Regions from separate parts of the Homo sapiens genome. Here region 2 is linked to region 1. The links come from fine-mapping of genetic effects on gene expression. A gene starts in region 1. The other region holds a variant in brackets. All regions are shown on one strand. Distances are between the middles of the regions.

Region 1 (15,729 bases):
GAACCTGGGAGGCGGAGGTTGCAGTGAGCCGGGATTGCGCCACTGCACTCCAGCCTGGGCAACAGAGTGAGACTCTGCCTCAAAAAAAAAAAGAAAAGAAATGAAAAATAATATTGTAGAGGATTATGCAACATTGTAAAGTGATCATGACACAATATGATGCCAAACCTTTTATAAAGTACACTACCAATTTTGTTTAAAAATACATACACATATATAGAGAAAAACTATATTAGACAATCAGAAAACTCCCTATACATTTTATTTCTTTTAACCATTTTTTTCCCTATGCATTTTAAAGGTTCTCCCCTGCTTTTCCCTAAAAGAGAAGCTGCCACCAGTTATAACTGCTTTAGCACCCACTCCTCAAACCCTTTACAGCCTGGTCTCTTCCCCATTACGCTCCAGAAATTACTGAGGATTTTCAGTCATCTAATAATCTAATTACTGCATTTTCTCAGTTCTCATCTTCCAACTTTTCTGCAGCATTTAACATTTTATCTTTTTCCTTGGTCTTCCTATTGCCGGGCCATCTTCCTACTAAACAGCAGGTGTTTCATCCTTGTTTCCCTGGCAGTAATCTTATCTGCTTCCTAAGTCTCATACTATTTCTTACTTTAGACCAGTCCATGGTCATAATTTTAACTGCAAAATGAGTACAACATATCCTTTTAAATTATTTTAAAATTAATATATATTTCTTATTTTTCTTTTTTTGAGACAGAGTCTCGCTTTGTTGCCCAGGCTGTAGTGCAGTGGCACAGTCTCGGCTCACTGCAACTTCTGCCTCTCAGGTTCAAGCAATTCTCGTGCCTCAGCCTCCCAAGTAACTGGGATTACAGACATGCACCACTACACCTGGCTAATTTTTGTATTTTTAGTAGAGATGGGTTTCACCATGTTGGCCAGGCTGGTCTCAAACTCCCAACCTCAGGTAATCCGCCTCGGCCTCCCAAAGTGCTGGGATTACAGGTGTGAGCCACCTTGCCCAGCCTCTGTATTTCCTAATTTAAAAATAATAATTTACGCTGACCCCTTTCAGCATAAACTATCAAATATAGGAGACACAGATGATTCAAATATAGGAGAAATAAATAACTCACCAATTGTATAAACAACTTCAACATCATCCATTTGGGAATCAGTAATGCTGTTCTTGGCTTCACCTTTTACTTCCCCAAGAAGAAAACCTTCCTATGAAGATAAAGAGGCAATATATAGAATACACTGATAGAATTACTGTTCACTTAACTAACCGTATTTCCTGAGTATTTTACTATGTATACAATATGTGCTACCAGTCGGGGGCACATATGAAAGATCTGAGATGCTTCTAGTTTACTTGGGAAAGATGAAGAGTTAAATAAAAATGAGAAGAGGCTAGGCAAGATGGCTCACGCCTGTAATCCTAGCACTGGGAGGCCAAGGTGGGCAGATAGTTTGAACCCAGGAGTTAAAGACTAGCCTGGGCAACAGGGTAAAACTCCGTCTGTACAAAAAATACGAGAAACATTAGTTAGGCATGGTGGCACATGCCTGTAGTCCCAGCTACTTGGGATGACGTGAACCCAGGAGGTTGAGGCTGCAGTGAGCTATGATCACGCCACTGCACTCCAGCCCAGGCGATAGAGTGAGACTCTGCCTCAAAAGAAAAAAAGTAGAAATAAAGAGGAGAGGAAGGGAAAGAGATTAGTCTAGCCTGAAATAATCAGAGTAGCCCTGGGGAGGCTACAGATTAGCCCTGTAGCCCTGGGGAGGCTACAGATTAGACTAAAGCTATGGGCAATATTTGTGTAGGCAGAGCATGAAGCACTGGGCACACTTGGAAGCATATAAGACTTAAAGCCAGAAATGAGCACACACTGAAGAATGAGCAGAGCACTTTGCCTTGGAGCAGAAGGAAATCAAAGATAAATAAGAACGAGCCAATAATGGGACACCCCGAATGACTACTCTGGATTTAACCACATGTGCTTCTGGGAGTTACAGAAAGCTTCTAAGGTACGAAATGACAAGATTAGTGTTTTCTGATTAAAACTCATGCACAATATGAAAGATTTAAATTCAATTTCAGAGTCTGCTTTCTAAAAGGAGTGCTGTGAGCCCGATTCTTTTAAAACTACTTGTATTCTGCCACCCCAGTGGTAATTTATCTGAGTTTTGGGGAATTCAATTTCTCTAGGCACACTTAAAGACCCAATGTGCTTGACAATGAAGATTTTATATCTTTTTTTTTTTTTTTTTTGAGAAGAGGTCTAGCTCTGTCATCACCCAGGCTGGAGTGCAGCGGTGCAATCACTACTCACTGCAGCTTTGACCTCCCAGGCTCAAACAATCCTGCTGCCTCAGCCTTCCAAGTAGCTGGGTCTACAGGCACGTGCCACCACGCCGGGCTAATTTTTAAAATTTTTTTGTAGACATGAGGTCTCCTTATGTTGCCCACGCTGGTCTTGAACTCCTGGGCTCAAATGATCCTCCTGCCTCCGCGTCCCAAAGTGCTGTGATTACAGAAATATTTTATATTCTTTATAATTAATAATGCTTTTTTCCCCTAAAAGTAAAAAAGGATTATTTCCATAATGTGAGTCTTTACTGGAATCACGCGGGGGGATATCCAGAATCTAGTGTTCTTGATTTTGATACTCAAAAGACGAACTCAGGGAAGGGAAGCAGGGGGGCAATGCAAGTGCAACTAGCCAGAAAAACCACCCTTTAAAGACTTCAGGAAAAAGATCTGAGAAACAGGGGCCTCCCTAGCACTCAGGTACTTCCCAAGGGCTAATCGTTTAAGCTACCGAGGATTTACGGTCCCACTCTATCTACACTACAGGTATTCCAAAATAATTTCCACAGCTACACATATATTTTAAATGGTCATATATTTGTTCTTTATTAGGTATTACTTTGTAAGGTTATCTGAAATTGTATACATAAAACATACCAATTCCAACCTTTATTAGGATTGTGCCAAAGAGCAATTTTGTAATGTTTAGATTTTGTAGAGACCGGGTCTCACTACGTTGTCCCCGATGGTCTCGAACTCGTGGGCTCAGGTGATTCACCCGCCTCGGCTTCCCAAAGGGCTGGAATTACAGGCGTGAGCCACCGCGCCCGACCTATATTAAGGCAATTTTGAGTAAAATAGACGTTATATCTTAAAATGAACTTAGCAGAAATTACTAGGCATTGTTCAGCAGGGTATTCTCCGAACTGTACCACACAGCAGGGAAGTGTATTTCAGATGCTTAGACTTTCTTTCTGCAAGTTACTGAAAGTGCTACAGGACATTAACTACTTCCGAGCTCAACGTTTTACAGCGTTTCTTTAATTTCATAGAACTTTTAGAAAATAGGCAACGTACTTTTAAAAACTGTTTTAACAAATTTAATAACGCAAATAAAAAGATATCTGATATACCAGATTAAGCTGTTCCATCCACTAAGATTTGCCACTGGACGCAACATCTATTTTTATTCCCTTACCATCCTACCATCGCAACAAACACGCACAGACGCTGCTCTGCATGAAAAAGTCCGCCTGGTTTTGCAAACGCCTGTCGGGCGTCGCGAGAAACGGAAAGTTTACCGCAGGCTCCGCAGAGCAGCGGAAAGACGCTCCGTGAACTTTCCATCTTTTCACGCCCAAGTTTCCACAGCTACAGGGGCGCCGAGGAAAGATGGGAGCGTGTGGGACACTTGGGTCGGAAAAGGGAAATAACGGAGGATAGCAGAGGGAGGGCTAATGCTGGAGAAGACTTCGTGGGCACGAGGCACCTCAGGGACCGCTGAGGGGGAGAGAAGGCAGAGCCGCGACCGCAGGGAGGAGGCGCGGCGGCGTCGGGGGAGCGGGCGGGGACCGGAGCAACAGCGGGGAGGCAGGCCGCGCGCAGGGCTCTTCCCAGGCGACGCCGGACCCCGCCCCGTCCCTCGGCTCACCGTGTCCGAGTCCGTGTTGAGGTGCTGGAAAGCGAGTGCGCCGAGCACAAAGCCCGAGAGCACCGCCGACGTACTCTCCCCCTCCATGCTACCGCCGCCTCAGGCTACACAAGAGGACGAGGGCGGGGCGCGCGGAGGCAAGACCCTGTGGTGGCAGCGAGGCGGGGCCCAGCGAGGAGGCGGGGCCTGCGCCGGCGCACGGGCTGCTGCGCGCTCCGCAGAGGGGCGGGGCGAGGGGGCTGAGGGCGGGCGCGGGCGGGTCCCCAGCCGCGCGCTCGGCTCCTCCTTCGCTTCTGCTGCCGGCCTCTCCCGGAAGGCCGCTGCATGTCGGTACCACTGCAGAGGGCTGCGAATTGCTTTTGGTGGCCTGCGCCTGCTGAGCGACCTGTCACAAACATGCAAAGCTATCAAAATGAACACGGTTGACAGGGTCATTTTAAGACAAGCAATGATTACAAGAATAAAAGAGTTGAGTAGCAACATTACGATGCCACAGTGGATATGCCACGGTTTTGGTTTTCAAGCTGCATTTTAGCACCCTTCACTCACTGAAACTTACAGAATACTAATAACCATTTGGGGATTGTCTTTGCTAGAACTCTCTAGCCATGTTCTGTGTCTGTGTGTTTGTGTGTGTGCATGTGTGTGTTCCCTTGCTTTTAGAAAACTTCAGCCTAATTTAAACAATACATGGATATTTAATGTTCTGACAGTTTAATGATAGGCATAATCATAGTAAGCTGGTTCATTTAATGTAAATGGTAAGGTGAGTGGACCAGGGCTTGGCAAATGTATTTTACACACACACACACACACACACACACGTAAAGGTATGTTTCTTAAATGACTGAAAGTAAGCATAATAGCAGACTACTGAATTAGTGTGGCACATTTGTGGGTTTTGTTGTCAAGCAGTTGTCTGTGGCTGCGTAACACACAATACATATGTATATAATTAATGATTATATATTTATTCCCTAGAATTAAGTTTCTTGCCTTCATTTTGTAGGGGTGAAGGGAAAGCTCTGCCCTCTGAAGGTTCACTGGAGTGAACTAACAAAAGAAAAGATGAACAGAAGGAAAAGGGATACGAATTTATTTTATTTTTTATTTTTTTGAGACTGAGTCTCGCTTGGTCACCCAGGCCAGAGTGCAGTGGCACCATCTCAGCTCACTGCAGCCTCCACTTCCCGGGTTCAAGCGATTCTTCTGCCTCAGCCTCCTGAGTAGCTGGGATTACAGGCACGTGCCACCAAGCCCGGCTTATTTATTTATTTTTTTTGTATTTTTATTAGAGACAAGGTTTCACCATGTTGGCCAGGCTGGTTTCGAACTCCTGACCTCGGGTGATCTGCCCCCTTCGGCCTCCCAAAGTGCTGGGATTACAGGCGCTCCCGACTGGCATACAAATTTATTAATGTGCCCTGGAGAAAATCACAGTAGAGTGATTACCCAATAATCCAATGAGGTTCAGATGCTTATGTACACTTTTTCATAAGGGAGAGGGAGATGGAGGAATGTAAGTAATTTTGAGGATCACAATTGATTCTTTGGATGAGCTTGAGGGATTGCTTGCAAAGAATTCTTTGTGGAAGTTGGATGAGCCCAAACAGCAGTCAATAACTTAGTACAAAGTTCCTCTGGGCTCTAGATTTGATGTTTGACTTTCAGTCTTCTTTCCACAGTCAGTAGATAATGAAATTTCAATGAAGGGGTGGAAGACAATTGTCGTAGGGTTGATAAAGAGTGGACAGTCGTGCAGGAGTATGATTACACAAAGGGAGTATGATGTAATGGTAACAAACTGGGGGAACTTAGAATGGGCTGTTTGTTCAGGTTCTTCTCTGTGTCCTGGTGTCTTCAGAGGTAAGGATATTCCTTTTCTCTATGTAAAGGGAGGGTACCTCTCAAATGATGGTCTTATGACCTACTTCAGGGAAGGACACCGGGTTTTATGGCCTGCCTCAAGGGAGATGGCCAGAGTATTCTTTCTATGGTTTATGGCCTGCTTCAGGGCAAAAGGAGTGAGGGGAAGGTGCAAATGACCTCTTTGCTCTGCTATTTTCTCAAATGCTCAGGTGCTATATTTTGGAGTAGTGTGTCCTGAACCACATCACTAGTTTTACTTCCTGCAACCCAGAGCAGCACAGTAGCTGAACCAAATACTCCTTCGGAAGCCAAAAAAGCTTGGGTATGAGTGGAGATAAGGAGAAATAGTAGATGAGAGTAAAGGAATAAATAAACGGGTTATATAATGAGGGAAATCCAATATTCATTAAGACCTCCAAAGAAACTCAAAGCAAGGGATGATATTGTCTCTTATCTTAATTATATCAGATGCCTGAAATAATGAAGATATATATTGCTAAGAACTCTGCTTTTGAAACCTGAAAAGATCAAATGGAAGCCTGAGTGGCCACACCCTGGGAGGCATTTTCTTTTCTTTTTCTTTTTTTTTTTTTTTTGAGACGGAGTCTCGCTCTGTCTCCCAGGCAGGAGTGCAGTGGCATGATCTTGGCTCACTGGAAGCTCCACCTCCTGGGTTCACGCCATTCTCCTGCCTCAGCCTCCTGAGTAGCTGGGATTACAGGCGTCCGCCACCACGCCCGGCTAATTTTTTGTATTTTTAGTAGAGACAGGGTTTCACCGTGTTAGCCAGGATGGTCTTGATCCCCTGACCTTGTGATCCACCCACCTCGGCCTCCCAAAGTGCTGGGATTACAGGCGTGAGCCACCGCGCCCGGCCTGGCATTTTCATATGATAGGCTGATGGACTGGACAGGTTATTAGTAATTGAATGGGGTTTTAGAAATGTGCAACTATCTTTTAACTCTTATGATTCTTTGCTATAAGGAATCAGTGGTCAAAGATCAAGGATTTGTCTGTAGTATAGTAAAAAAGAAAATAAATATTTAGTCTTTGTCCTGAGTTCCTGGCGTGGGAGCTTCTAAAACCTTAGGAATTTACTGGTTTTTGTATGCTAAAGAATGACTCATGGGAGAGTGTATTCGTCCCTTCTTGCACTGCTATAAAGAAATACCTGGCCGGGAACAGTGGCTCATACCTATAATCCCAGCACTTTGGGAGGCTGAGGTGGGCAGATCACCTGAAATACGAGTTTGAGACCAGCCTGACCAACATGACAAAACCCCATCTCTACTAAAAATACAAAAATTAGCCAGGCCTGGTGGCGTGCGCCTGTAATCCCAGCTACTTGGAAGGCTGAGGCAGGAGAATCACTTGAACCTGGGAGGTGGAGGTTGCAGTGAGCCGAGATCCTTCCACTACACTCCAGCCTGGGCAACAGAGTGAGAATCTGTTTCAAAAACAAACAAACAAACAAAAAGATTGGGCACAGTCACTCATGCTTGTAATTCCAGTGTTTTGGGAGTCTGAGCAGAGAGTATGGCTTGAGGTCAGGAGTTTGAGACCAGCCTGGGCAACATAGCAAGACTCTATGTCTTCAAAAACTTTAAAAAATTAGGCCAGGTGCGGTGGCTCATGCCTGTAATCCCAGCACTTTGGGAGGCCAAGATGGGTGGATCACGAGGTCAGGAGTTGGAGACCAGACTGCCAATATGATGAAACCCCGTCTCTACTAAAAATACAAAAATTAGCTGACCATGGTGGTGGGCACCTGTAATCCCAGCTACTTGGGAGGCTGAGGCAGGAGAATCACTTGAACCCAGGAGGCGGAGGTTGCAGTGAGCTGAGATCACGCCACTGCACTCTAGCCTAAGTGACAGAGCAAGACTCCATCTCAAAACAAAAACAAACAAACAAAAAATTAGTCCAGGTGTGGTGGCTCGTGCCTGTAATCCCAACTCACGCCAGTAATCCCAGCACTTTGAGAGGCCAAGGCAGGTGGATCACCTGAAGTCGGGAGTTCGAGACCAGCCTGGCCAACATGGTGAAACCCTGTCTCTACTAAAAATACAAAATTAGCGAGGTGTGGTGGCGTGTGCCTGTAATCCCAGCTACTCGGGAAGCTGAGGCAGAGGTGCTTGAACCCAGGAGGCCAAAGGTGCAGTGAGGCAAGATTGTGCCACTGCCCTCCAGCCTGGGCAACAGAGTGAGACTCTGTCTCAAAAAAAAAAAAAAAAATTAAAAAAGTTAGTTGGCCAGGCACGGTGGCTCACACCTGTAATCCCAGCAGTTTAGGAGGCTGAGGTGGGAGGATTGCTTGAGCCCAGGAGGCAGAAGTTGCAGTGAGCTGAGATCATGCCACTGTACTCCAGCGTGGGCCAGACCCAGTTTCAAAAAAAAATCAGTCAAGTGTGGTAGTGCACACCTGTAGTCCCAGCTACTGGGGAGGCTGAGGCGGGAGGATTGCTTGAGTCCAGGAGCTTGAAGCTGGAGTGAGCTTTGATTGTGCCACCTCAGCCTGGGAAACAGAATGAGACCTTGTCTCTTAAAAAAAAAATTAGAAAGAAGAATAACTATGAAAATAAGAGAAACATTTTAGCTGCTGTATTAGAATCATGTTAATGATAGGGTTGATTGCTTCAGAAGGATGTGCTTGCTTGCTTAAATTGGGATCCAATAATATTCATCTCTGTTAAATTTTTGGTATTCTATTTTAAATAGGAGGGTTAATGGAACCTCAAATAATTGCAAGAAAAAACTGTATCTTTTACTTTTCTATTTGAATTTTTAGATATTGATTTTTTTCGCATGAAAAGGATAAGAATATGATTTTTAAGTAATGATTTCACTCACAACAGATCAACTTTTAAACAAATATGCTTGCAAATAAATGAGTATCATAAAGGGAAATATATCTTATCTTCATAGCATATTATTAATTATACTATTTATTCAAAATGAATGGAGAATGTGATGGCCATGGACATGCTCCACTCTGGTTGAACCTGCTGGGGGAGCCACGGTTGGCAGAAAGCCTCCCACTTCAGCTCCTGTGAGCATTGCTGCCCTCTAACCTTCCCTGCCACAGCATCAGTGACCATGGTGGGGTATTAACACAGGCCCATTCTTATAAGATGCAGGATTCCTGTAATGGGACTTTGGCTCAAGGACTCTCCATCAGCCTGGCTAAGATTATGTTAGCTTGCACTGAAGTCTGAGACTCCTATCCTTCCCTTCCTCCTTTCCCAGGTGTCAGATAAGCATGGTTTTCTGCAGCCTCTCCTTGCTTACTCCTGCTCTCTTCCCTTTATCTTTCACAGACATTTCCCCAATAGGTCTCTCTCTTGCACATGGACTCCTGTCTTTGTGTCTGCTTTTCAGAGCATCAAAAGTGAAACAAAGTGCTTGCTTTTCCATATCACCTATAAAGGGCTTTCAGAGCCATAAAGATCACATTTTCAAATATCTGCCAATTAAAAAAAACTTCAAATACAAACATACTCAAAATATAATATGATGAATTTCATTTTTTAATTATAGACATGATTTATTTCTAATGGTGAACAAGTATTATTTTAATTTTTTTTTTTTTTTTTTTTTTTTTTTTTTTTTTTTTTTTTTTTTTTAGACAGGATCTCAATCCTGTTGCCCAGGCTGGAGTACAGCTGTGTGATCATGGCTTACTGCAGCCTCCACCTCCCAGGGTCAAGCGATTCTCCCACCTCAGCCTCTTGAGTAGCTGGGATTACAGGTACATGCCACCATCCCTGGCTAATTTTTTGATGGTTTGTTGAGATGGGGAGGTCTCACTATGTGGCCCAGGCTGGTCTCGAACTCTCGAGCTCAAGCAATCCTCCCGCCTCAGTCTCTCAAAAGGCTAGGATTACAGGAGTGAGCCACTGCACCTAGATAAGTATTATTTGTTAAGGCTATGTTATCTGGGAAATACTATTATAAACACATTTTGTTTTCTTTGTAATATTTTTGTGTATTAAAAACGTAATGAGAGTTTTAAAAATCTCTGATAAAACTTGATATAACTCTAAGATTATAGACACAGAAATAAATTTATCTGAGGTTCCAGGGAAATTTGAAGATGTATTAATGTGATAACATTCCAACTTGTTATTATTTCATTCCATCTGTTAAAGAGGCATAAGGAAAATTACACAAACACCGTTAAGAAATATGCCCCCTCAGGATGCACCTCTACCTGGTGACCTGCAGGGGACACTGTGATAGTAGTTCTGAAGGAAAAGGCCTTTGATTGGGGTTCAGAGATTATTATTATGTAAAAATAGTTAATAGGGCTTAATCTGTTATAATGTGTTAAAATAGGCTACTTTGAAAATCCATGGTGATTTAGTAAAAATGACTTAAATGCTGTATCTTGGATAAGAATCATTGTTTTTTTTTTAAAAAAATACCCTTGCACATCCACAAATATAAAAACAATAGAACTCTGGCAAAGGAGATAAAGTAACTGCAGAAATAGTAGTGCTGACTGATGCTTTAAGAATTATTGCAGACAGGGTTAAGAAGCTAATTTGAATTCCAACAGAGTCCTCCTTAGGATAAATTCCAAGACCAAAGTAAAAGTTTCAGCAGTGTCAGTTCAGCTAATCCTGAGAAGGCATTCAGATAGAAAATTCCAAGAGGCATTAGTTTGATCTGAGCTTGTATGGACAACTCTAGGTATAAGGTTGTTTCTGGTAGAAAATTAATTTCTATAGCTTCAGTGAATAATTTACGCTAGTTTAAATAATGAATAAGTGACTGGCTTGGGTTAAACAAAAAAAGCACCTGCCTCTGGGTGAGGTGGCTCACACCTGTAATCCCAACTACTAGAGTGGCTGAGGTGGGAGGATTAATTGAGCCCAGGAATTTAATGTTACAGTGAGTTATGATGGCACAACTGCACTTTAGTCTGGGCAACAGAGCAACGTGCTGTCACAAACAGACAAAAAGTATGTTATATATTTATATAATGAAATAAGAGAAAGTTCCCATAATCCTTCCATCCAAAGATATTACAGTGAATGGTTTGGCTTATATTCTTTCAGGTTTTTATCTATTCATATGTGTATTAATGTATATAGGTATTTGTGTATATTTTGATTATTATATTATATTACATTATATTTATTTATTTTTTTGAGAGATTCTCACTCTGTTGCCCAGGCTGGAGTGCAGTGGCACTATCTCAGCTCACTCCAGCCTCTACCTCCCGGGTTCAAGCGATTCTCCTGCCTCAGCCCCCAAGTAGCAGAGACTACAGGTGAGCACCATTCCCAGCTAATTTTTGTATTTTTAGTAGAGACGGGGTTTCGCCATACTGGCCAGGCTGGTCTTGAACTCCTGAGCTCAGGTAATCCTCCTGCCTTGGCCTCCCAAACTGCAGGGATTACAGGTGTGAGTGAAAATCATTTAAAAATCAAAATCTATTTTCACTTTTAAAAATACATATTATACTTTATTATTAATTTTTGTAATTTAAACTTATTAATGGGGTTCAGGACACACCACCCCAAAATAGGACTGTAGAATCCAGAATGTGCTATCCCAAATATGCCTCTTTGTCATAAGAATTATTTTGAGCTGGTTATTTTGAGAAACGACAGACATAGGAGCAGTTCTGGAAAGTTACCCTTTTGTAAGAGAAATTTAAAGCTATAAAGGAAATATCTATTTGTAAGTGTATCTCCCTCTCTGAATCAGGAAGAGAAGGACGACTAAATCTTTAGAGACTTAATCATTGGAAAAGGCATCACCTTAATCTGTATTAAAAAAACTTACCCTGGATTTATGATATCTTTCCTGGCCATGTCATTTTTTTTTTTTTTTTTTTGAGACTAGGTTTTGCTCTGTTGCCCAGCTTCTCACTACAGCCTCAGTCTCCTGGGTTCAAGTGATCCTCTCGCCTTGGCCTGCCAAAGTGTTGAGATTAGGTATTACAGTTGTGAGCCACTGTACCTGGCATTTTGGTTCTTAATTATTGAACTGCTGGGCATAGTTGGGCACAGCTAAGTGTTTCCTGGATTTTTTTTTCTTTCCCTAGGAAAATTCTCATCTCTTAAAGGGCAAAAATCTTGCTTTCCACTTTCCTTATGGTCATGAATTCACAGCTATTGACTGCCTGCTTTACATCAGGCACTGTGCTAGTTGCTGGAGGTACATTGAATAACAAAATAGAGATAGTGCCTGCCCTAATAGTATTTATAATCCAGTGGGGGAAAGGAAAATTACATACATCATCTCTCATATGATGACATAATTACGATTCTAATAAATACGTAGTAGGAAAAATAGAAAACTAGAAGCAAGGGTAACTGAGATACCCACTCCCCTATTGCTGGGATCAGAGAAAGTCTTCTCAAGGACCTGGATACTTGGGAAAAGGAAAAGAAGTGGGGAGGAGTGTTCTCAGTTAAAGGAACACCATGTGTGAACACCCTGAGGCAATTAGAAGATTCTAAAACCTGGAGTGTGAGAGGGAGGGAGGCAGGAGGTAAAAGCTGGCTAGTGAGAAGGGCCAGACCATGCTGGCTGTTGTAGCATAGGATTTTAGAATTTGTCTTTTTGGTTTTGAAACAAGGTTTCACTTTGTTGTCCAGGCTGTGGTGCAGTGGCACGATCATGGTTCGCTGCAGCCTCAACCTCCCTGGGTTCAGGTGTTTCTGCCCCTTCAGCCTCCTGAGCAGTTGGGACTACAAGCATGCAACACCACACCAGGCTAATTTTTGTAGCAATAGGATTTCGCCATGTTTCCCAGGCTGATCTCCAACTCCTGGGCTCCAGCAATCGTCCCACCTTAGCCTCCCAAAATGTTGGGATTACAGGTGTAAGCCAACACGCCGGGCCCAGAATTTATCTTAAAAGAGTGGAAACAGCCAGGTGCGGTGGCTCACACCTGTAATCTCAGCCCTTTGGGAGGCCAAGGCGAGTGGATCACCTGAGGTCAGGAGTTTGATACTAGCCTGGCCAATGTGGCAAAACCCTGTCTCTACTAAAAATACAAAAAATTAGCCGAGAGTGGTGGCAGGCATCTGTAATCCCAGCTACTTGGGAGGCTGAGGCAGGAGAGTCACTTGAACCCAGGAAGCAGAGGTTGCAGTGAGCCGAGATCGTGCCACTGCCCTCTAGCCTGGGAGACAGAGCAAGACTGTGTCTCAAAAAAAAAAAGAAAAAAAAAAGAAAAGAAAGAAAGAAAGAAAGAAAGAAAGAAAGAAAGAAAGAAAGAAAGAAAAAAAAGGCCATGCGTGGTGGCTCACGCCTGTAATCCCAGCACTTTGGGAGGCCGAGGTGGGCGGATCACAAGGTCAGGAGACTGAGACCATCCTGGCTAACATGGTGAAACCCTGTCTCTACTAAAAATACAAAAAATTACCTGGGTGTGGTGGCATGCACCTGTAGTCCCAGCTACTCAGGAGGCTGAGGCAAGAGAATTGCTTGAACCCAGGAGGTGGAGGTCGCAGCGAGCTGAGATCACGCCACTGCACTCCAGCCTGGGCGACAGAGCAAGACTCAATCTCAAAAAAAAAAAAAAAAAACAACATTGTGGAAATGGCCGGTGGCCCAGGCCTGTAATCCTAGCACTTTGGGAGGCCGAGGCCAGGAGTTGGAGACCAGCCTCACTAACATGGTGAAACCCCATCTCTATTAAAAATACAAAAATTAGCCAGGCATGGTGTCAGGCGCCTGTAATCCCAGCTACTCCAGAGGCTGAGGCACGAGAATCGCTTAAGCCTGGGAGGCAGAGGTTGCAGTGAGCTGAGATTGCACCACTGCATTCCAGCCTGGGCAACGGAGTGAGACTCTGTCTAAAAAAAAAAAAAATATATATATATATATATATATATATATATATATATATATATAAACATGTATATATATATATAAACATGTTTATATATATTTTTTATATATGTTGATATATATGTTTATATATAAATATTTTTAAAAATTATATATAATTTTTATAAATATATTTATATATATATTTTTAAAAATTATATATAATTTTTATAAGTATATTTATATATAAATATGTATAAATTATATATAATTTTTATAAGTATATTTATATATAAATATATATAAATTATATATAAATATTTAAAAAATATATAAACATGTTTATACATTATATGTTTATATATATTTTATATATAGTTTTTATATTTTTATATATAAATATATATTTATGTTTTATATATAAACATATATAAAATATATAAACACATATATAATATGTATAAACATATATATAAAAAACATACTTAAAAAAATTAAATTTAATTATAAAAAGATACTGAATGGGCTGGATGTGGTGGCTCACGCCTGTAATCCCAGCACTTTGGGAGGCCGAGGTGGGAAGATCAGTTGAGGTCAGGAGTTCGAGACCAGCCTGGTCAACACAGTGAAACCCCATCTCTATTAAAAATACGAAAATTAGCCTGGTATGGTGGCACACTCCTGTAATCCCAGCTACTAGGGAGGCTGAGGCGGGAGAATTGCTTGAACCCAGGAGGCAGAGGTTGCTGTGAGCCAAGATCGCTCCACTGCACTCCAGACTGGGTGACAGAGCCAGACTCTGTCTAAAAAAAAGAATACTGAATGGATAGAAGCTAAAAATGCTACAAAACTCATCTAATTAGTTGCTGTCAATATTACATGTTTTTTTCGTTTTTTAAAAAATAATAATTGTATACATTCATGGGCTACGTAATGTTTTTTTTTTTTGGGGGGGACGGAGTCTCGCTCTTTTGCCCAGGCCGGAGTGCAGTGATGCAATCTTGGCTCACTGCAAGCTCCACCTCCCGGGTTCACGCCATTCTCCTGCCTCAGACTTCCGAGTAGCTGGGACTACAGGGGCCCGCCATCGCGCCCGGCTAATTTTTCGTATTTTTAGTAGAGACGGTATTTCACTGTGTTGGCCAGGATGGTCTCAATCTCCTGACCTCGTGATCTGCCCGCCTAACCTCTAAAAGTGCTGGGATTACAGGAGTGAGCCACGGCGCTCGGCCCTACATAATGTTTTAATACAAACAATGCATAGTGATCAGATCAGGGTAATTAGCATATTGGTAATTTCAAAGATTTATCATTTCTTTGTGTTGACAACATTTAATATTGTAAGAATTAAAGAAAGAGGAGAGAAACACAAAGGATGGCTTTTCAGTCAACAGGGGCAGGTTTATTTTAAATAAACCTGAGAAGGGCGGTTGGCTGAGTTAGGTCAGAGCCACACTCTCTAACAGACTAAGAGTTTCTAAAGATTCAGGATAGGAGAGTTTATAAGAGGCTTGGACTGCTTCTGTGTCTCTTTGTTGTGCTTATCTGGGAGGGACAGTTGCGTTTCTATTCCCATACACCTTTTTGCAGCTGCAGGCATATCCCCCAAGTCTGCTTTTAGCTTCTCTATCTTAGTATTCCTGAAGGGAAAGAAAAGTGCTTATTAAGGCCCACTGTCTTACTGGGGCCCATTGTATGAGGGTGAAGTTTGGCAGTTACCCAAGAGACTTTCTCCTCACCTCCCTCTGTTTCCAAGCGGTCTTATCTGTGTTTTACTGTCTGCTCTTTCTGGCTGCTTGTAGTTAGAAGAGAAGTGATTTCCTTGAAATGCATGAGGCTAGAAAGGGAGCTGGAACTTAAAGTGGTGGTGTTTGTCCGAGATGACGGTGCTCCTGCTCTAGCAAATATCCTGCCAGGCGTAGTGGCTCACGCCTGTAATCCCAGTACTTTGGGAGGCGGAGGCTGGGGGATCACCTGAGGTCAGGAGTTTGAGACCAGCCTGGACAACATGGTGAAACCCCATCTCTACTGAAAATACAAAAATTAGCTGGGCATGGTGGTGCACACCTGTAATCCCAGCTACTTGGGAGGCTGAGGCACTAAAATTGCTTGAACCGGGGATGTGGAGGTTGCA
Region 2 (16,698 bases), 43 kb before region 1:
ATGTTATAACTGTTTTTTTCTTTATAACATATATCTTTATAGGGGATAGTTTTTTTAAAGACATAAATTTTCTTTTCTGAAGATGGAAACATACATATTATTAAATCATACTTCCATGGTAAAACACTGCCTAAACACTTGCACTTTAGAAACTTCACATCCTACAATGTTTCCATCACTTAGCCAGTGTCTCCATCTTATTACCTTGAATTACTCTAAGAAAATGAATGATTTACTGAGAATTTTTTTAATGATAATTTAATTTCCTTAAGCTTTTATAATCAAAATCATTGTAAAAGCAGACTGTTACCAAAATGAGCAACTCCTTCATCTTATTCCAAACATTTTTATATTTTGCTATTCAATAAATTTAAGTCTATCTTAGACCAATCCATGATAGTAGGATTGAAAGAGGAGGTAGAGGTTGACTAGATTAGCATTCAGGTTAATAGACTATGAATAGTGATACAGCATTAGCTAAGGGGCTGAAAGAAATCTCAGAAAATGATAAAACCACACATGGGACAAACAGGTGTATAAAAAACTGAACTGTTAGTAGTTAAAGTAACTTCATACTTATCTCTATGAATACGACAGAGCCAATATTAAGATACTACAAAATTATAAGACAACACATTTCTTACTCAGGAAATTATATCCAAATGTCCATACAACTAAGTGTGAAGTTTACTAAGAAAACAAAGGCAGGCCAGGCGCAGTGGCTCACGCCTGTAATTCCAGCACTTTGGGAGGCTATGGGGGGCGGATTGCTTGAGCTCAGGAGTTCGAAACCAGCCTGGGCAACATGGTGAAATACTATCTCCATGAAAATTACAAAAAATTAGTTGGGAGTGGTGGTGTGTGCCTGTAGTCCCAGCTACTTGGGAGGCTGAGGTAGGAGGATCACTTGAGCCCAGGAGACAGAGGCTGCAGTGAGCTAGCTGAATTTGTGCTACTGCATTCCAGCATAGGTGACAGAGTGAGACCCTGTCTCAGGAAAAAAAAAAAAAAAAAAGGAAAAGAGAAAAAAAGGCAATGGAAGATACAATTCATTTCCACAGTGGTAACAGTGATTAGTCCTTTGACTGACTAAGCCAGTTGTTCCTGTCCTTGGCTATATGTTGGACTTGCCTGGGGAGCTTTACAAAATGATATCTGGGTGTCACTCCCAGAGATTCTGATTTGTCTAAGATGTAGCCTGGACTTTGGAATTTTTAAAAGCCTCCAAGATGATTCACTATGCACCCAAGGTTTTGAATCACTGACCTAATATTACTTAACATTCTCATACATATAGTCTTAGGGTTTTGTCTTTTTTTTTTCCTTTTCTTTTTGAGACTGAGTCTCCCTCTGTCACCCAGGCTGGAGTGCAATGGTGTGGTCTCAGCTCACTGCAACCTCTGCCTCCCAGGTTCAAGTGATTCTCCCGCCTTAGCCTCCCGAGTAGCTAGGACTACAGGTGCACGCCACCACACCCAGCTAATTTGGTATTTTCAGTAGAGACAGGATTTCACTATGTTGGCCAGGCTGGTCTTGAACTCCTGACCTCATGATCCGCACACCTTGGCTTCCCAAAGTGCTGGGATTACAGGCATGAGCCACCGTGCCTGGTCTTCTTTTTTTTTTTTGATGGAGTCTCGCTGTGTCACGCAGGCTGGAGTGCAGTAGTGCGATCTCAGCTAACTGCAACCTCCGCCTCCCGGGTCCAACAGATTCTCATGTCTCAGCCTCCCCAGTAGCTGGGATTATAGGTGCAAGGCACCACACCCAGCTAATTTTTTGTATTTTTAGTAGAGATGGGGTTTCACCGTGTTGGCCAGGCTCGTCTCAAACTCCTGACCTCAAGTGATCCACCCACCTCGGCCTCCCAAAGTGCTGGGATTACAGGCATGAGCCATGGTGCCCAGCCACCTTAGAATGTTTCTCTGGCTATTTCACATGTGATTTTTCACAGTTAAAATTTCTTTCTTCAAGGTCAAGGCCTTCAGTATACTAAAACAACTTAATATGATGTTTTGCAAGGCATAATTAGTGTTTGCCCAATAAAATTAATACATAGTCTGTAATTCCTAATAAAAATAAAACAGGCTATTTAAAAAATATTAACATACTTGCTTAAAAATTTGCATATCATTTCTGCTACATTTTCACAGTTCTTCTTACTAGGACAAAAAACTAAGCAGGAATAATTGGGAATAACTTCTGTCACCAATGCTACCAAGTGATCAGGATCCATCTTTTTTAGGGTATCAGAATACTGCAAAACAACAAGATGTAGGAACAAAGTGGTTAGTAAACATGAAACCCTGTCAATTTTTTACCAGTGTGATTTGAAAGGTAAATAAACCATCTATAATTCTAAACTTCTAATTTAATAAATCTGATCATTTAAAAGAAAAGATGAAATCTATATTAAACATCAAAATGTTCAATCTCACTTTTCTTTTAGGTTATTATGATTTTCTTAGGTCTAGTTAGTCTAAAAAAAAACCTAGAATTAAACAAGTGAATTAAAGAAAATTAAAGAAGTGAAAATAGTTAATGTTATTAATAGCCTCACTACATGCCCATCTCCACCACAGCAGAACAAAAAAGTCCACAGAGAGAAACACAGATTGATCCTAATAATAGTTAACGGACTGTGTAAATAAGACATGCCCTTTACAACCATTAAGTTTTCAAAAACACAGATTCAATCATACTACTGAATTATGACAATTTTTGTAGTCACATGAGGAACACAAAGAACATGAAGAAAAAATGTGAAGTTATTTAAAATCTATTTCTTCAACTTTACTAAAGACATAGCTGTAGAATAACACATCTTCACAGAATTCTAAAACTACTGTATAATCCCTTCTTCCCCTTTTTAATATCCTTCATACAAGTCATAAAACACTAAAATTTACATAGTAGACATTAACATTTTATACACCAATATCTGAACTACATGGTCCATAAATTATTCTTTTGTTGTTGTTGTTGTATGAATAAACATTTACAGGAGAGTTTTCCAAATTTTCTTTGTTCACAGCCCCAGGGCCCAAAGAAATACTTTACAGTTTTGTTAATTAAATAGTGAGGTCCAAACAACTTAATAAATACGTACTTCCTCACAATTTAGTAGCTGTTAGAATAAATAATACACATCAGTTGAGTGAAAAAATATTTTTATTTCATTCTTAAATAACCACAACAGCTCACTAATGGGATGTGTGCACAACTTGGTACTGTCTTTCAAAATCTGAAATAAGACTGGACACAGCTATTCTCTTCTGTTCCAGATTGATTTTCACACGGTACTTGCTTACAGCAACTGTAAAAACCCCAACTTCACAAAGATATGATGTCATAGAAAAGAATATGGTGTGATCTAATGTTGAAACTGGAAACGAGCTATCTTGAACTGGCAGTCTGCATGGTGTCCAACAAATGTCAAGCATCAGCTGTTTCTCTGAAAAATCTAGACTATTCTACGGAATCCATTGGAAACTCTTGTTGTGCCCCAGACACAAAGTCTGGTAACCTGGAATTTAAATGTTATCAATGTTACCTTATAATTAAGAAGACGTGAAAAAGTCATGCCATTCTCAGCTTTGCTGTCAACTTCATATATTGTATCATTTATTTTCAGATATTCTTTTAACTCAACCTTGAATTAAAAGGACATTTGCAATTAATACGACATATAAATTCATCTTTCCAGTGTTTTAAATATTGTAAAATAGGTTAAGAAAGGACAGCTATAAAAGAGTTTAGCTTTTCTAAGATACATAAAACATGCTTCAACTTAAAAGTTCTTGCTTTACCATTTCTTCTTCTTCTGTTTTGGTCTCTTTTTCCCTTAAAATCAAAATAGAGATCAATATCCTTGAAGAAATATGTTTGAATTCAGTAAACATCATATCCAAAAAAGAAACCACACACTTCTGTATTTGTCACAAAAAGTGTGAGTCTTGGTGTTCTTAACTTTTACTAAGGTATCATCTGTTTTATGTCTCAAGATCTAAAACTTTGTCTTTTTTTTTTTTTTTTTTTTGAGACAGGGTCTCACTCTATCACCCAGGCTTGGAGTGCAGTAGCATGATCACAGCCCACTGCAGCCTCAACCTCCAGGGCTCATGCTATCCTCCTACCTCAGCCTCCTGAGTAGCTGGGATGACAGGCATGCGCTACCACGCCAGGCTAATTTTTATAGAGATGGGGTTCCTCTATGTTGCTGAGGCTGGTCTTGAACTCCTGGGCTCAAGCGATCCTCTTGCCACAGCCTCTCAAAGTGCTAGGATTACATGCATGAGCCACCGTGTCCAGCCAAAACTTTCTGTCTTATTATTCATCAGTTTTAATTCTAAATACCACCACACTATTTTTCTTTATTTGTCGACAAAAACAGTTTGTAAACACAGCTCATTGCATTTTATAATAACAATAACAATGTCTACTGTGGCAATTAAGTTAAAAAATATCTCTTGAAAATGTTCCTATCTGGTTCAAATGTAAAAACATCAATTTTTTTTTTTTTTTTTTTTTTTTTGAGACAGGGTCTCACTCTGTAGTCCAGGCTGGGGTGTAGCGGCACAAACACAGCTTACTGTATCCTCAACCTTCTGGGCTTAAGTGATCCTCCCATCTCACCCTCTCAAGTAGCTGGGACTATATGTGAGTGCTAATATGCTCTAATTTTTTTTTTCTCTCTCTTGCAAGGCTGGAGTGCAGTGGCGCAATCTCGGCTTGCTGCAACCTTCGCCCCACTGGGTTCAAGCGATTCTCCTGCCTCAGCCTCCAGAGTAGCTGGGACTACAGGCGTGCGTCACCATGCCCTGCTAATTTTTGTATTTTTTAGTAGAGTCGGGGTTTCACCATGTTGGCCAGGATGGTCTCGATCTCTTGACCTCGTGATCTGCCCACCTCGGCCTCCCAAAGTGCTGGGATTACAGGTGTGAGCCACCGCGCCTGGCTGCCCTAATTTTTTAATTTTTTGTAGAGACAGGGGTCTCGCCATGTTGCCCAGGCTGGTCTTGAACTCCTGGACTCAAGCAATTCTCATGCCCCGGCCTCTTAAAGTGTTGGCATTGCAGGTGTGAGCCACTGCACCCAGCTAAAACATCAAATTTCAAATTAAAATTTGGCAATTAAAAAAATATTTTCTGAAAACCTATTTAGACACTGAAAAACTATTGAGGCACAAAACATACACACTAGTAGTGCACACAAAAATATATATACATTACAAGCTATTTTCAAATAACCACAAATTACATTTGTTTACTTTCTTCAAGCATTTTGGGAATGCTGCTGTTGAGGAGTTTATATGTAAATCCATGTGAAGCCTTAACTTATTAAAAAAGTATTATAACTACTAACATATAAATATTTAAAAATATTTTAAATTTTAAGATATATTTTTTAATGTGCCAATAACTCAAAACATGTCTCACTAAAATTTTGCCAAATAAAAAAATTTAGTTTACAGAATAAGAAGTGAAAAAATAAAATGGGGGTTTGGGAAAACTCATTCAATGAACGTTCATTGACAGCCTGTGGGCCAGGCTATAGATACATTAGTGACCCAACCCAAGATCCCTGACCTATACACAAACTCTTAAATTCTCTATACACAACCTCTTATTAGCATATAGTCATGGTGAGTAAAATATGCCCCTTCACTACTCTACAGAATTCTTTAAATCCTATGTTTACTACTTTCATTTCTAAGTTAGATGAATACGAAACAAATCAATACAGTGCAAACCTTAGGTACATACTGGTCTAAATTGACTGGTATAATATTCTGCTTGAAGAAACTTTTGTAGGTCTTCAACATTGTTTAATGTTGCACTCATACCAATAATTTGAGTCGTTTCTAAAACACAAACAAACAAAAGCCAAAGTGTTAAGGAAAATATGTTATTTAATATATCATAAAGTAATTTTAGCAAGTCTTTTGTGCTCTGAATTCTTCCTGAGTGATTTGGGAAAGGGGTGGGAGAGGTAAGTAAGAAAAATACAAATAGCTGGGTGCCTGGCTCACATCTGTAATCTCAACACTTTCGGAGGCTGAGGTGGGAAGATCGCTTGAGGGCAGGACTTCAACACTAGCCTGGGCAACATAGTAAGACCTCATCTCTACAAAAAAATTAAAAATTACCTGGGCATGGTAGTGCACGCCTGTAGTCCCAGCTACTTAGGAGGCTGAGGTGGGAGGATCGCTTGAGCCCAGGAAGTCAAGGCTGCAGTGAGCCATGATTGTGTCACTGCACTGCAGCTTGGGCAACAGTGAGACCTGACCTCTTAAAAAAAGAAAACTACAAATATATTACCAGAGTATTAATCTGGCATTTGAAGAATGAAATTTTTCAGGTATCCTGAAAGTTACTACTTAGAAGTTTACAGAGTTTCAAACTTGGCAAGAACTAGGATATTAAGGCTTCTAAACAATAATAAATGAGTATAAATCTGCTTATAACTGTCTATCTGGATCCCCTTTACGAAGAGCTATGATATGTTCCACAGGTATGGCTATAGACAGATGTAGAGGTAGTAGGATAGAGGGCTAAATGCGTCTCGAACTCTTGGCCCATGAAAAGTCCTCTATGAGATCTTGCTATCAAGCTAACTTTTAATTTTATTTATTTATTTATTTTTTTGAGACAGAGTCTTGCTCTGTTGCCCAGGCTGGAGTGCAGTGGCATGATCTCGGCTCACTGCAACCTCCACCTCCTGGGTTCAAGCAGTTCTCCTTGCCCCAACCTCCCGAGTAGTTGGGACTATAGTTTTTGTTGATGTTGTTTTAAATAAAGGTGGAGTGAAGCTTATGAAGCCATATGACATCCTGGGCAATACAAAATGGCTGCTTTCTATAGACTTAACTATTGAATGAAAACCCAAATAGGCCTTCTTTGCAAATGTTTCTTCATTGCTCCTATGTCTTGAAATGATCATTCAAGAAACTCACTGAAAGAGGAATAAGTGGGAGTATCCTTCTCATTCCATAAGGATAGACTACAAAGCTGAAGAGGTGGGCATGGGGTCAAATCAAGAAAGGCTGTGCTAAGAAATTAGGGATTTATGCAGAAAGCAAAGGGGAGCTATTAAAGAATGGTAAACAGTAAAATAAACTAATTGGATTTGCATTTGGGAAAGATCATTCTTCTTGCGCTAAAGAAAGATGGATTTGGTGGATGAAGGGCAGTGGGTACACAGAAGAACTTGGTGATTTCTGTGGCAATCCAGGTAGAAAGGATGAGGTACTGAACTAAAGACTTAGTGGTAATGAGGGATAGGAGAGACAGAAGTAACAATATATTTATGAGGTAAACCAGATAGGATTTGGTTGCTGATAGAATATGTAGGACCCTGGCTTGGCTGGCTGGAGAGTGGTGGCTGAGAATTCAGGCTGAAGAACGGCTTTGAAGGAAATGAGTTTGGCTCAGACTAAGCCTTAGTTAGGCTTAGCTGTTCAGAGAATATTCAAATAGGGATGCCCTAAAATACAGGCTTGATGAAAGCAGGGACTATTTTATTCACTGCTGTATCCCTAGCACTTAAAATAGTGCCTAGCACACAGTAGGTGATCAATATTTTTTTGAATGAACAATTATAAAATGCTATAACCTGCTTAAATATTATTGCTGTTGAAATTTTTTAAATACTTTTTAAGATTTGACCTTTATAGTTAATTTTTCCATATATAAGGTAAATATTGCAATAGCATATCAATAGTAGGTTATGACATTTAGAATAAATTTTTCATAAACTTTAAAGACTACCTGATGCTGCAAAATAGCTCCTTAAACTGACCTATTTAAATGTATCGCTTTACAATATTATTATTATAATATTTATGTTATATGTATTATTATGGTGATGATGATGATGGCCACAGTAGCAGCAGCAAACCCTTACTGAATGCAGTGTGCTAAGCACTGCTGAATGCAATACATGTGTTAACTCACACTATCCTTACAACAATCCCATCAGGCTGGTACCATTATTATCCTTGTTTTACAGATAAAGAAACATAGAGGTTGAGGGATGTGCCTGGGCACACATAGCTAGTAAGTGGCGGATAATAATAGAGGACTTCTTCAAATACCAATTTCATTTACCTTCAAAATTCTATTCATTAGAAATTTTAAAACAAAGGCAAAAAGCTTAAGTATCTTGCTTTAGGTTACATACTGTAGCTAGTGATAGAATTAAGTATTTTATAAGTCTCTTGATTATAAATCAATTCATGACCTCATTTGAAAAAATACTTACTGCTAGTGTAGAGGATTTTTGCTAGGGTCATTTCCAGTGTAGCTCCACGGCTTCCTTCACCAATCATGTGCAACTTCGAGATTTTTTTTAAAAAGGACAGAGAAGTAAATCTTCATATAGTGCTCATATAAAACATGCATATATTCATATGAAATTTGTTTGTAAAGAGTTGCTTATAACTTTTAAGTATTTTGAATATAACAACTATAATACATGTATATTATTTCACTGGTATTTAGGTTAATGAGCTTTTGGTACAAAATCCTTATAAATCTGGGATTCATAAGTACTACTAAAAAAATTTTTTTTTTAAACGGAGTTTGGCTCTTGACCCCCAGGCTGGAGTGCAATGGCGTGATCCTAGCTCACTGCAACCTCCACCTCCTGGGTTACAGCGATTCTCCTGCCTCAGCCTCCCGAGTGGCTGGGATTACAGGCGCCCACCACCACGCCCGGCTAATTTTTGTATTTTTAGTAGAGACAGGGTTTCACCTGTTGGCCAGGCTGGTCTTGAACTCCTAACATCAAGTGATTCACCTGCCTCGGCCTCCCAAAGTGCTAGGATTACAGGCATGAGCCACCACGCCCAGCC[A/T]ATAAAATTGTATACTACACACATACGTGTTCACACTTCAAGAAACACTTGACACAAAACCAAATTTAAGATTATCAAGCATAGAATGTCTTCACCTATATTGTCTATATTTTCAAATAAATTTATTTTTATAGAGGTACTAAGGTACTAAGTAGATCCACACAATAACCAGAATAATAAATATTTAGTATAATAAAAATATTGACAAATTACAAAAGTATTAACCAACCTCGTCTACAACAACCAGACCCAGACTGTCAATTCTTCCAGTTTCAATCAAGGAGTTCACCAAGCTATGTCCTTTTTCAATAGTGGCAATATAGAGTGATTTCTTTTCCCTTCTTTTAGTTGGAGGAAATCTTCCTTTGCTTCCAGCATATTCTTCAACAAAGAAACCGAGTTCTATACCAAAACTTGACAAACCTGAAATCTAGAATATTAGTTAAAATAAAGAAAAATTGGCCAGGCATTGTGGCCAATGCCTGTAATCCCAGTACCTTGGGAGGCTGAGGCGGGAAGATCACTTGAGCCCAGGAAGGTGAGACCAGCCTGGGCAACACAGTGAGACCTCATCTCTATAAAAAATAAAAAATTCGCTGGCTGTGGTGGCACAGGCCTGTAGTCTCAGCTACTTGGGAAGCTGAGGTGGGAGGACTGCCTGAGTCCAGAGAATTGAGGCTGCAGTAAGCCTTGGTCATGCCACTGCACTCCAGCCTGGGCGACAGAGCAAGACCCTGACTCAAAAATAAATAAATAAACAAAACCAAAAAACACAAGTAAAAAACCCCCCATTAGGTGCTCATGGGGTTCAAAAAAGCTAAAGTAGTGTTTAATACCCATCAACAGGAACAAGGTCACAGGCAAGACATACGTAAGAAATGCTGTAATGTCTCGATCTTTGCAAAATAAATGCAACTTCTAAAATACATGTGAAAATAAATTTCAACTGGCGCCTTTGATACCAAAAAGCATCAGGGGTGTGTTGGCTCATGCCTGTAATCTCAGCATTTTAGGAGGCTGAGGCAGGTGGATCACTTGAGGACAGGCGTTTGAGATCAGCCTGGCCAACATGGCGAGACATCATCTCTACCAAAAATAAAAAAATTAGCCGGGCGTGGTGGCGTGTGCTTGCGATTCTGGCTGCTGGGTGGGGTCGTGGGGCATGAGAATTACTTGAGTCTGGGAGGTGGGGGTTGCAGTGAGCTGAGATCATGCCACTGCACTCCAGCCTGGGTGATAGAGCAAGACTGTCTCAAAAAAAAAAAAAAAAGCATCAGAATAACTCATTTTAGTAATAGTTTCTGCTTGAAAAAGCAAGGTAAGGCCGGGCACAGTGGCTCACACCTGTAATCCCAGCACTTTGGGGGGCCGAGGTGGGAGGATCACTTTAGGTCAGAAGTTCGAGACCAGCCTGTCCAACATGATGAAAACCCATCTCTACTAAAAATACAAAAATTAGCCAGGCATGGTGGCACACACCTGCAATCCTAGCTACTTGGGAAGCTGAGGCAGGAGAATCACTTGAACCCAAGAGGCGGAGGTTGCAGTGAGCAGAGATTGTGCCACTGCACTCCAGCCTGGGCGACAGAGGGAGACTACATCTCAAAAAAGAAAAAGCAGGGTAAATAGTAATAGAACATTTAAGATGATGTTTAATCCACCAGTTTAGAAAAAGTAAAACTTTCAACAACTGGTAATTAGTATTTGAAGATATTTTAGGTAGTGTATACTGCTTTTATACATTCTAAAAATATTAATTCTCCATCATTAAGAGGTACTTCTCACCAGGCGCAGTGGCTCATGCCTGTAATACCAGCACTTTGGGAGGCTGAGGCGGGTGGATCACTGGAGATCAGGAGTTTGAGACCAGCCTGGCCAATATGGTGAAACCCCGCCTCTACTAAAAACACAAAAATTGGCTGGGTATGGTGGCATGGGCCTGTAATCCCAGCTACTCAGGAGGCTGAGGCAGGAGAATCGCTTGAACCTGGGAGGCGGAGGTTGCAGTGAGCCAAGATGGTGCCACTGCACTCCAACCTGGGTGACAGAGCAAGACTCCATCTCAAAAAAAAAAAAAAAGAGGTACTTCTCAACAATACAAAGTTATCACATTTACAGATCTTAACGTCAAAGTACTAGCAAATAACATTTGTTTTAAAACATACACACACACACACCTTTTCTTGGACAATTGCCACATATGGAAGAATCATTAAAACATCTTTCCGACAGCAAAGCAGTTCTTGCAGCATTAAAATCTCAGCCACGAGGGTTTTTCCACCACTTGTTGGCAAGGAATATATTAAATTTTTTCTTTCTTGCACAGAATTCAATGTTAAACAAGTATGTTGCCATTCTGTGGAATTAAAAAAAAAAAGGCATTATTTTCCCCTTCCAAACTTTGAAACTCAAAAGTTTTCTAAGAAAAAAAATCAAATCCCTTCCTGTGGAGCAATCCTCTCATAAGGATAAATTTAATTATAACCAATGTTACATGTCAAAAATCCCAAATGTGCAAGTAGTACAGCCAGTGAGAGCCTAGTTCAGGCCTAGGCAGCAAGGTGGGCAACCAGCCCATTTATTCACCAGCTGCAGACTTGGGTCCAATATTACAGCAGGGCAGGTAGCAGCCTCGTGGACAAGGAGTGCCATCTGAGATATCAGAGGAACAAAGGGACAGTACAAGGACCTGTGTGAATTCGAATGTCTTCCTCTTATGTTCTGCAAGGAGATTATATAAGCTTCCCTTCCTCATTCAGCCAAAAGCCATCTCAGAGAGAAGCAGGGGAAGGAGGGAAACAAATCTATTAGGTTTTACACAAACTAATAAAAACTTTAACTAGCTCTCATGGAGACCTGAACTTCGAATGGGTCCAAAACCATTTTAAACTGTTAAAACTCTTTAAACCACAAAAGACTAGGATTATTAACTGACACGCCTAGGATTCCCACAATTTGGCAAGGCGGGATTCATGAAAATAGATCAGATCCAAGATACCGTGTGAAAACTAGTATTAATTACTCTGTAGGATAATCTGACAATAAAAATCATCAGAAGTCTTTAAAAATGTGCTTCAGTGTTTTATCACTAGAAAAATGGGCAAAAAATTTAAGACATTTCACAGCAGACGGCAAATGGCCAATAAATACATGGCCAATAAGCAGCAGAAATGCAAATGGCCAATAAATACATGAGAAGATGCTCAGCTGTTCTCTACTGGGTTGGCAAAATAAATTTTTAAAATAAAAAACAAATAACTATCAAAAAAAAAAAAAGCCCCACACATGCAAAATCCAGAGCTGACTAATGTGGGGAAAAACAGCCATTTTCATGTACGGTTGTGAGAACATAAACTGCTAGAATCCTTGTGGAAAGTAACCTAGTATAAAATAGAACTGCACATTGCCTTTGATCTGGTAGTATTACTTTTGGGATTCTACATCTATAGAACGGAAGCCAAAGCATATAAAACACAGCATTGTTTGTAGGTAACAAAGTGCCATGGTGGTGGGGGTAAAGGCCGAATGAATTATTGTACAATCAACCAATGAGATTCTTTGCAGTTTAAAAATGAAGAATAGATGGATCTATGTATGTTCAATATACAGTTAAGTTTAAAAAAAAAAAAAAAAAAAAAAAAAAAAAAAAGCAGATCATTGCCCCGGAGTGGTGGATCATGTCTGTAATCCCAGCACTTTGGGAGCCTAAGGCAAGAGGATCACTTGAGACCAGGATTTCAAGATGAGCCCATCTCTATTAAAAAAAAAAAAGAAAGTTATATCTGAATGACAGTTACAAGTAACTTTAACTTATTGTGCTTTTGGGTGATTCCCAAATACTACAAGTGACTGTGAATATTTTCTTTAAAAATATTTCAAAAATACTTAAATTTAATATTCAATAAATATTGAAAAATACTTCAGATTGGTATCACCCGAGTTATCAAATTAGATGTTTATGCCAAAGTATAACTTAACCATAGCCACATTTTATCCAATTCAGATTTTTAAGCATAACATGACAAAATAACTAATATTTATGAATACAATCTTCACATCAAAAAAAAAAAAAAAAACTAGCCGGGTACAATGGCTCATATCTGTAATTCCAACCCTTTGGGAGGCTGAGACAGCAGGACTGCTTAAGCCCAGGAGTTCAGGACCAGCCTAGGCAACAAAATGAGACCCTATCTCTACAAAATATAAAAAAATTAGCTGGGTATGGTGGCGCATGCCTATAGTCCCCACGACTTGGGAGGCTGAAGTGGGAGGATTGCTTGAGCCTGGGAGGTTGACGCTGTAGTGAGCCACGATCACAGATTGCCAGGTCGTATTCCTAGAGGTTCTGACGCAGTAGGTCTAGGGAAGTGTCTGAGAACATGCACTTCAACAAATTTCCAGGTGATGTTGATGCTGCAGTCCAGGAACCACACTTGAGAACCACCGCTTTAGCTTAATAAAAAGTAGCACATGCATTTATGCTTTAATCTGGTCATGTTATTAAGCCAGATTTAGAGGTAAAAAGATTTAAAAAGTTGTTATTTACTGAAGTTCTTACTTAGAAGCTACCAATGTAATTACTGACAATCATTACCAACATCTAATTTGGCATGTCCTTAACACAGACTCTAACTTGCAAAAAAAAATTATCCCTTTTTATAGATGAGGAACTAGGCCCAAAGTGCTAAGGTTGCATTTTTAAGTGACAATCCCCAGCAGTTGAGAACCTACCAGAGTATACCAGGCACAGTGCTAGTTAAGAAAAAGATGAGTTAGGCCGGGCTCGGTGGCTCACGCCTGTAATCCCAGCACTTTGGGAGGCTGAGGCAGGCGGATCACAAGGTCAGGAGATCGAGACCATCCTGGCTAACACGGTGAAACCTTGTCTCTACTAAAAATACAAAAAAAAAATTAGCCGGGCGTGGTGGCGGGCGCCTGTAGTCCCAGCTACTGGGGAGTCTGATGCAGGAAAATGGCGCGAACCCAGGAGGCGGAGCTTGCAGTGAGCTGAGATGCGCCACTGCACTCCAGCCTGGGCAACACGCGAGACTCCGTCTCAAAAAAAAACAAAAAAACAAAAACAAAAACAAAAAGATGAGTTAGATAGAGCCTTGTCCTCAGGATATTCATTCTGGCAGACTAAACAAAAAGCAAGGTGCTAGCAGAAAAACAGAGGGAAGAACAGAGGGAAGAAAGTTAACGTCTACTTCCAGGGCAACACACACCATTAGCTCTTAAGTCATGAACCTCACAATTTGGATTCTTGTAGAGTCTTTTATTAGACTTTGTTTCCTGTAGTTCTGCTTCTCCAACCTGATTGTCTTCTCTGCAAGAACCCAAGTTTTCATATCATTCATAAGATCCTAACAGGAGTTCCAGAAAACTTACGAAGTGGAAGGTTGATGGGGCTGACCCTCCAGTATGGCAGCAACTGTCCCTTCTTGGTCTAAAATGACACATATCTGAAATATATGCAAGGACCCTGGATTTTTGAAAAACATTACAAGATACCTTCTTAATATTATTGCTTCTTTGCACTTAAAACAAGTTTGTCCAACCCACGGCCCTCATGAGGCCCAGAATGGCTTTGAATGTGGCCCAACACAAATTTGTAAACTTTCTTAAAACATTATGAGATTTTTTTTTTTGCAATTTTTTTTCTTGGCTCATCAGCTATCGTGTTACTGTATTTTATTGTGGCTCAAGACAATACTTTTTCCAAAGTGGCCCAAGGAAGCCAAAAGATTGGACATCCCTGACTTAAAACTTAATTGCAGCTGTCTTTAAAGATGTCTAGCTTTGGGAAAGGCAGCACAAGGCAGAGCATCTGGGTGGTGGCAGGGATGCACCCGTGGGGAGAGGTAGCTGCGGCTGCTGGTGTGGGGGGAAAGATGTTTGGTTTAATCAACAGTATTACTAATAACTGACTTCTTTCACTCAAGACATGTGAGTGTCAAAGACATACCACAACAGCTAGGTTTTGGTAGAGAAGACAGAGCCAGCCAAGGAAATACAACTAAGAAAGCTGAGGATCTCTACTAGACAATCGGGGTCAAAAAACAGGAGTGGTTGTAAGGACATCCAGAAACAAGAATTTCAAGAAGGGTGTAGTCAATAGCATCAGGTAAGTTATTGAGAAGTCAGGTAAGGTAAACATTAAAAGTAACACTGTGTTTAGACGTCTCAGTCATCAGATCTTAAGTGAGAGAATGAGAGCACAGAACCCAGAATTAGAGTGGGGTAATTTACTAAAGTTCTTACTTAGAAGCTACCAATATAATTATTGAAAATCATTACCAACATTGAATTTGGCATGTCTTTGAACCAGAATCTGACTTGCTAACAACTTATTATCCCTTTCTTATAGATGAGGAATTAGAGGAATTATGTCAGGTAAGGAAACAGACAGAAAGGATAACTGGTTTGATAAGTGTGACTGTGAGGGAAGGAAAGAGGTTCAGTGGTAGCAGGACAGGTAGGAATGGAAGGGGCTGAGAGATCACTGATCTTTTGTTTTCAAAATGAGAAACAGTATGGACCATGAAAGCATTTGCTTCTATTTACTTGCACTAATATTATGGTAATGATAGGAAAAAAATTTTTTTATTCCAGCAAAAAGCATTACCATATAATTTTTCAATTCCCTTGAATTGGGCATAAAGGTCTCTCACTTTGCTGGGTAATGAATAAAAAGGACCAAGGTCATTTGATGATGACTCAACTGTTTTCTTAGCAACATTAATTTCCTCAGATAGGAGAGTGTCTTTGAGCTGTTTACTTCTAGAAAATATTGGTGTCTGGGCCTTCGCATTTCCAGTCATGGCATTTTTTAGATGATCTTTAATACTTTTTCTCCTGTTCATATCTGAACTAGTTCTGACTTTGGAAGAGGACTCATCATTTTGCTGGGGTTGCTCTATGCAATTATGGGGCAGTTCCTCATTCACAGTGTTGTGAGAGGATGACTTCCAATCCCTTTCTTTCATAGAATGATCACCCAAATCATTTGAAGAGTTCTGCAAATTTTCAAAGTATATAGCCTGTGAGGAAGGTACATCATACAAAAGATCAGCTCCAGGTTCAATAGTGACACCTTCATATCCACTCTGGTTCTCTGTGTGCTTATCAGTTTGTAATTCAGTAAGGTTGCCTATGGTAGTAATGCTGAGTTTGTTTTTGATACTTTCCGAGCAAAGATTTTCAGTGGCAAAGTCTGTAGCATGTTTCTTATGTTCAGGGAGTTGCATATATTTTTGTTCCAGGTCGTCAACTTGAGCTATAAAGGAGTTTTCAGTAAAGCTATCATAGTCACCAAACATGTCCACTTCACTGTCATTAGGCTGCAAAGAGAACAAAAACGCTTATGGTCAATTCCAGTTTCATTAAGAATAAAAGCTTCACCAGCCTGGCCAACATGGTCAAACCCCGTGTCTACAGAAAATACAAAAATTAGCCGGGCATAGTGGCATGCTCCTGTAATCCCAGCTACTCGGAGGCTCAGGCAGGAGAATTGCTTGAACCTGGGAAGCGCAGGTTGCGGTAAGCCCAGATCGCGCCATTGCACTCCAACCTGGGCAACAGAGTGGGACTCTGTCTCAAAAAAACCAAAACAAACAAACAAACAAAACCCCCAAAAAACACTTCAGCCTAGGGCTGTACCAAGTATATAATTATATGGTCACATATGGATCACAGACCTATATGTAAATAGATATCTTACAGCTGAAGAAATGGAGGCCCAAAGAGGTTAAATTACTTGCCTAAACAGCAGGTTCAGGAGTGTTACGATGATACTGAGATTCTAATTTTTGAGACAGGGTCTGGCTCTGTCACCCAGGCTGGAG

What was found.
Region 2: its variant is fine-mapped to the expression of ABRAXAS1 in whole blood (TOPMed, PIP above 0.99). The same link has a PIP of 0.9 or more in blood mononuclear cells.

What each region holds. Positions count from the first base shown.
Region 1 is chr4:83,481,051-83,496,779 of GRCh38, forward strand. It overlaps ABRAXAS1 (abraxas 1, BRCA1 A complex subunit), which reads right to left and starts at 4,050. Exons shown (of 9, transcript NM_139076.3): 1 at 3,936-4,050; 2 at 1,104-1,194. The coding sequence starts at 4,022. RefSeq lists a silencer at 3,776-4,265.
Region 2 is chr4:83,437,752-83,454,449 of GRCh38, forward strand. It overlaps HELQ (helicase, POLQ like), which reads right to left. Exons shown (of 18, transcript NM_133636.5): 2 at 15,480-16,194; 3 at 11,032-11,210; 4 at 9,084-9,284; 5 at 8,263-8,335; 6 at 5,766-5,863; 7 at 3,554-3,652; 8 at 2,112-2,257. Among named protein-coding and RNA genes, the nearest start is that of HELQ, 9.7 kb to the right of the region's middle. The variant A/T (reference allele first, on the strand shown) is at 8,855.